Homo sapiens: one gene and its partner. The protein of the gene in region 2 purifies or fractionates together with the protein of the main gene of each other region. This does not show direct contact. Each region holds a gene or a part of one and is shown on either strand. Other genes may lie near its edges.

Region 1 (3,500 bases), on a different chromosome or scaffold from region 2:
CAATACAAAATACTTGTTATTAAAAAGGGTCCTTGGGTGTGATGGGGTTAACTACTGATTTAGAGCATTTGAAATGCCAATATAAAAATACTGGAATGGGAAAACTCTTTTTGCATATTGCAAGGCAGAAAATAGCAGCAGTGTAGAGCCATTTAAACATAATTTCACAGCCATAACCAAATGCAAACATTTTTATAATATTGATATCTATTTAAGTCATGTTAAATCAAATGATATTCTTCAGTAAAGAGACAAGGACAAAGCTAAAATTTATTAGAAATTCTCCTGTTCTTCAAAGCAAACTCAAACAAACTGACATATACCTACTTTTAGATTTATGTAAAAAACAGATTCTTGGCTGGGTACGGGCATGGTGGCTCACGCCTGTAATCCCAGCACTTTGGGAGGCCAAGGCTGGAGGATCACTTGAGGTCAGGAGTTAGAGATCAGCCTGGCCAACACGGTGAAACTCTGTCCCTACTAAAAACACAAAAATTTGCTTCGTGTGGTGGCAGGCACCTGTAATCCCAGCTACTTGGGAGGCTGAGGCAGGAGAATCGCTTGAACCTGGGAGGCGGAGCTTGCATTGAGCCGAGATGGCGCCACTGCACTTCAGCCTGGGCCACAGACTGAGACTCTGTCTCAGAAAAACAAAATAAAACAAACAACACATTCTTGGTCCTACAGCTAGCACCTTGGCTTTGAAGGACATCGGACATCAACACCATCCTTGAGCTTTTGGGCTCTTACCTCTTTCAGGATGCCTGTGTGTTTTGATTTTGCTTTTAGGATTTTCTGAAATTCCTCAGATTCCAGATAGGCAAGTTGTTCTCTCCTTTTTTTCCTGGCAGGCTCCAATTCATCCTCAGCTAGGGCACAAGGAACAAACATTAGCAGCGACCAAGAAATTTCAGAAAGCCAGTGCGCCTCATCAACTCTACTCCCTCCCACTCCCTCCTCCTCTGCCTACCAGCCCTTCAAACTTGACCTACCCCCGCTGGTCCCAGCAGGGAAAAGCTCTCAGAGGTGAGCCAAGAAGCTGAGCCTAGAATGTGGGGTGGTGGCAGATTTTACCACTAAATAGAATCTCTTTTTCACCTTCAAATAGGCAGCTGACGATAGTAACAGATAACAACAGTGTAAATAATGTTGACAATTATGTTAAAATGATATTGCCAACTTCAGAGTTTTAAAAATAAAGATATGGCAATTTAAAACAAAGGAATTCTAGTTCTGTCAAAGTAAATCTTTATGCTAATATATATATGTACAAAGATCCAATGAGCAATCCTATTCCCAAGTATTCAAATTGTGCCCAATTTCATTCCAATTTAATGTAATTATAAAAAAATCAGTTCCAGCTCACGTCTGTAATCCCAGCACTTTGGGAGGTCAAGGCGGGCGGATCATGAGGTCAAGAGATCGAGGCCATCCTGGCCAACATGGTGAAACCCCATCTATACTAAAAATACAAAAAATTAGCTGGGCGTGGTGGCGCGCGCTTGTAGTCCCACTTACTCGTGAGGCTGAGGCAGGAGGATCGCTTGAACCCAGGAGGCAGAGGCTGTAGCGAGCCAAGACTGCGCCACTGCACTCTAGCCTGGCAACAGAGCAAGACTCCATGAAAAAAAAAAAAAAAATCAGTTCCACCCATAGAAATTCTATTTAGGTATTCTATATAGGAGGAAATGGAAGTAATTGCTTGATATCTGGGTGCTGGTTTGGGTTTAGAACATATTTCCCTTAGAAACAGTTTCTCTTTCCCACTGTTAACTGTGAAACTGCAGTACCTTGAGAAGAAAACATGGTGTTTTTTTCTACACGTTCCTTCACCTCCAGGATGTCCTGAGGGTCCTTTTGTTTCTTCTTAATGCTGTTTGGGTTTGTTTTTGTAAGAACCTGGCCTTTTGCCCTTAATTTGGTGATAGCAGCTAACTAGAAAAAAGGGAATGAGAGGGAGGTAAAGATCTAAAAGATGACAGAGGCACTTATAGACCTGGATCCCTTTTTTATTAGTAACCAGTGAATTCTGGCTGTTCTCTGACAGAAATTGGCAGAACATATCTTAATTTTACTTAGTATTATTAACACAATTACTAGAATATAATAGCATGGGAGACAGGTCTATATGTTGATGAATAAAATCTTAGTTTATTTAAATATAACAAGTTTGACATCAGCAAGACTGCAGGCTTCCAGATCCATAAAGGAGCCACATCACCATTTTGGAAGTTTTAGAATCAGAGAGAATTAAGATAAAGTTCCAGCCAGCTCTGCCACGGACTAGCTTGTAACCCAAGGAAAATTACTTAATTTTTCAAGTATAAAATGGAAATGGGGCTTGGCATGGTAGCTCATTGTAAACCCAGCACTTTGGGAGGCTGAAGCAGGTGGATTTCTTGAGCTCGGGAGTTTAAAACCAGCCTGAGCAACACAGTGAGACTTCATCTGGGCATGGTACAAAATTAGCTGGGCATGGTAGTGCATGCCTGTAGTCCCAGCTACTCAGGGGACTGAGATGGGAGGATCACCTGAGCCCAGGGAGATGGAGGTTTCAGTGAGCTGTGATTGCACCACTGTACACCAGCCTGGGAGACAGAGTGAGACCCTGTCTCAAAACAAACACACAAAAAAAGAGAAGGAAATGATGATATAGCATTGACCTACCTTTGAAGGTCATGGTTGTATGGATGAAATAAGATAATATCTGCAAAGTATGAATCTTTACATAGCAAATACATTCCTGGCCGGGCGCAGTGGCTCATGCCTGTAATCCCAGCACTTTGGGAGGCTGAGGCAGGTGGATCACTTGAGGTCAGGAGTTCGAAACCAGCCTGGCCAACATGGTGAAACCCTGTCTCTTCTAAAAATACAAAAATTAGTCAGGCATGGTGGTGGGCACCTGTAATCCCAGCAATTCGGGAGGCTGAGGCAAGAGAATTGATTGAACCCAGGAGGCAGAGGATGCAGTGAGGCGAGATCGGACTACTGTATTCCAGCCTGGGTGACAGAGCGAGACTCCATCTCAAAAAATATATATATAAATAAATAAATAAACATAGTAAATACATGGCACACACATATCACAAGTACTGAGTAATATGGACATGTGCCATGGTTATTGTAGGTATTCCTGTTGTTATTATTATAGGTAAGGTTTTGGCATACAGCAAGCTTTGCCCTTCATTTGGCTGCAGCTGCTAACTTAAGGGAAGAGAGAGGCTCGATTGGGGCACTCAGGAAGTGGGCAGGTGGGGCTCTGGGTGCCCTACCCCTACTTCAGCCGCAGCAACTCAGCTTTCACCTGTCATGGGACTGGACTTTTGTGTAAGATTTCTTTTAAAGGATTCTTGGTTAGGCACAGTGGCTCATGCCTGTAGTCCCAGCACTTTGGGAGGCTGAGGTGGGACTGCTTGAGTCCAGGAGTGCAAGACCAGCTTGGGCAGCAAAGGGAGGCCCCCATCTCTACAAAAAATACAAAAATTAGCCAAGGCGTGGTG
Region 2 (3,500 bases):
TTTTTAGTGCTGCCAACAACAAAATAATTCCTTCTTAAAAATTATGTATTAGAAAACTTTTCAAAATTCATCCCATCCTCCAGAAACCAATAAAATAACACACACTAGAGGTCCTTCAGATGTCAGAATTAATCAGAATTCAAATCAAAATATTATTAAGTTTCCTGGGTAAGAGGAATCTTTTGAAAATTCTCATAAATAAAAGCTAGTTTTCAAAAAGTGATACCAATGTTAGTCCTGGAGAAAGAAGAGTTTCCCTTTCAAAAATCCATTTAATTAAATTAGATGAACAGCTTGAGCACAGAGTATTTAATACCTCAAATCTCTTAAGCTACAATCTTAGTAACAGCTGAACCAGATCTCCTCTTCTGACCTCTCCCAAGTCAGCCTAAGATGGGGGTGCTCTGTGTATAAGTGTGGGAGGAGGGTATGTTCTCTTACCAATTTGGGTAGCTGAGGAAGAGTGCTGGGGACATGATAATGAAACATGAGCACTAATCACCCTATAGTTTTTTCATCTAAAACAATGAGAAGGTTAGAGCAGATAATCTCCAATACTAACCAGTGCATCCTAAAATAACTTAATGAACACCTGTGTAACTAGGTAAGGGCTGCGAAGAATATAAAGGGAAGACATAAAGGAATTTAGAATCTAGTTGGTGAACACATGGAAGATTAAGAAAATAAAGTAAAGAGTGTTCGGATGCAGGTGCTCAGCAAAGGGAAAAGCATTACGACTTAAGAGAGAGTAGAAAGTTTCATGGAGCAGGTGGGAACTTAAATGAATCTTAAAGAATAGATAGAATAGGCCAGGCGTGGTGGCTCACGCCTGTAATTCCAACACTCTGGGAGGCCAAGGTGGAAGAATCACTTGAGCCCAGGAGTTCAGGACCAGCCTGGACCACATAGCAAGACCCTGTCTCTACAAAAAATAATAAATTAGCCAGGCGTAGTGGCGCACACCAGTAGTCCCAGCTACTCGGGATACTGAGGTGGGAGGGTCACTTGAGACCAGGAGGTTAAGGCTACAGTGAGCTGTGATTGTGCCACTGCACTCCAGCCTGGGTGACAAAGTGAGACCCTTTCTCAAAAAAAAAAAAAAAAATATTATCAGGGAACATGAGCTAACAAGAAAGAGGAGTGAGTGATAGAGGATGTTAGAAAATTAGAATAGGCAGGGTTTATCTGGGAACATATAATTTATCACAGAATCAATAGAAGTCAGTTACAAAATATATTGGGATTGATCAGGTGTAAAGAAGAGTTTCATTTCATCTATTTCTTATAAATTTTTACATTAATAATGCATTTGTAAATATTTTCTAAATGATGACTTGAATAAATATAAAGCTAAACTATGTCTTTGGAGAAAAAAAAAGATGCAAAAATGTCAATCATTCCTAAATTAAAATCTCAATGGAATTTGGTGAGGAAATGTAATTAAATAATTTCCAAGTTCATCTGGAAGAAAAATACGGTCTGGAAAATTCAGATAAAGTAGAAGTAGTAAGTGAAACATTCCCTATCAGACATTTCAGTTACAGAAACAGAGGCATAGAGAGGTTAAGCAGTTTGGCCAGAAGCACACAGGTGACAAGTGTCAGAGCCGGAATTCAAATCTAGTCTGTCCAGCTCCACAGTCCATGTGCTTAAACACTATGCTGTAATCCTGTTGCCCAAGAAAGGAAGAGTCACAAAGGTGGATACTAAGGCTCTTCTTCAAACAATATTTACATAATCTTAATAATAAAGACACTAAAGATTGACAGAGCCAAAAACCGGGACACAAATACATTGGGAAGACGAGTGGAAAAGAAGTTGAAGAGGCCATCGGAAGGGGAGTTGTGTCAAGAAACCTAAATTTTTACTTCATTGTTGAAAATCAATAGATAATTACCTATAATTCTAGAAATCAAGAAGTAGAAGCAGAATAAGCATATAACTTATAAGTGTGGAAGTAAATATTAGAAAAATAGTTTAAAGAGTTGAAAATGGTTGCCTCCACTAGGCAGGGGATAACTAGGTTGTCTCCACTAGGCAGGTGGAGACACACCCAGAGAACACCATGTAGCAGTTAGAAGAATGAATGAGATGTTCACACAGCAGCGTGCATAGGTCTTAAAAACACAGTGCTGGATGGGAAAAAGAATCTTTATAGCACAATATGATTATATAAATTACTAATATACGCACACACAAAGACTACATATTCTAAAGTGCAGACAAAGTAATTCAATGTACATATCAAACATGAGAGCAGCTCTCTATCAGAAGAGAGAAATGGAGATAGAATTCAAGAATGAAATAAAACAGGAAGAGGTTGCACAAATCAACGATGATAGTGTACACGTGATTTAATGAGTGTGATTAACTCAAGCTTCTGCACACAAGGTTGCAAAAAAATTAAATGGAACTTTGGAATGAAGAGAGATGGAGCAAAACACTACTTTTTTAAAAATATGTTTTATAGTACAGGTTGAGTTGTTTTTAAGCTATGCACAATTATTCTTCGATTAAAAATTAAATTTAAAAAAAGCTGATGGAAGAAGACATACAGGTATTTTATTTAAAGACCCAAAGGTAATCAATAGAATAGCTAAAAGTAATAATAAAAGTATCAGATTTGGAAGGACTGGGAGAGGGAAGGGAGGGAGGTGGTATCAGTATCATTGTTCATAATAGAAAGTAAATGAATATAGTGTGAAGTTGATAACTTGAAAAGACATATAAGAGCAATGTTTAGATTTCATAAACTCACCACCAAAAAAACTAACGACCAGAAATAGTTAAAAGAGGTTGCCTCTAGGGAGTGGGACTGAGAATATGGTATGTGTTAGGTAAGAAAACTGATGCTTTTCATTACAAGCTCTTCTAGACTATCTATATTTAAGATTTTTAATTCTTTGAAATATTCTTTGCAAACAGCTATATAATAGTATGTCATATGATTATTAACATAGCTAACATCTATTGTTCACTTACTTTGTACTGTACCATCCTAAGCATTTTAGAGATATTAACTCTACTAATGCTCACAATGACCCTATGAGGTAGGTAGAGTTCTCATTTTATGGACATAAATCATGAAGTGTGGAGAGATTAATCAATTTGCCCACGATCACCCAGGTAATAACTGACAGAGCAAGGATATGAATCCAGGTGGCCTGTCTCTGGAGACCAGAGCTTAACCACAGTGGTGTTCTGCTATCACAATTCAACATCCCCTATATTAGGACAAGTGGCTTATTTATAATTTTTAGTTCCTATAAACAATAAATCTTTGTGTGTCCCTGAGCCCTTAAACTCAGTTAGGTCCCCCAAGTTCAATGCTGTCAGAATATCTGGTATTTCTGTTTCATGTCACTTTACACATAGTGATTATTCACTTACTGCAGTTGTTTGTTTAATGTTGCCTTCCCCACTAGATTACATACTCTGTGAGGACAGGCACTGTGTTTACTTTGTCCAGCTCCACATCCTTAGTGTCTGGTGTGGTACCT

The links. The genes of interacting proteins can lie anywhere in the genome.
Region 1: the proteins of TPH1 (region 2) and MCM10 purify together in Homo sapiens (affinity purification with mass spectrometry; 2 studies listed by BioGRID and IntAct, with this or other methods). This does not show direct contact.

What each region holds. Positions count from the first base shown.
Region 1 is NC_000010.11:13,196,058-13,199,557, reverse strand, and holds part of MCM10 (protein MCM10 homolog), read right to left. Parts: intron 1,936-3,500; coding exon 1,791-1,935; intron 870-1,790; coding exon 751-869; intron 1-750. UniProt on the Homo sapiens protein: Acts as a replication initiation factor that brings together the MCM2-7 helicase and the DNA polymerase alpha/primase complex in order to initiate DNA replication. Additionally, plays a role in preventing DNA damage during replication.
Region 2 is NC_000011.10:18,036,270-18,039,769, forward strand, and holds part of TPH1 (tryptophan 5-hydroxylase 1), read right to left. Parts: intron 1-3,500. UniProt on the Homo sapiens protein: Oxidizes L-tryptophan to 5-hydroxy-l-tryptophan in the rate-determining step of serotonin biosynthesis.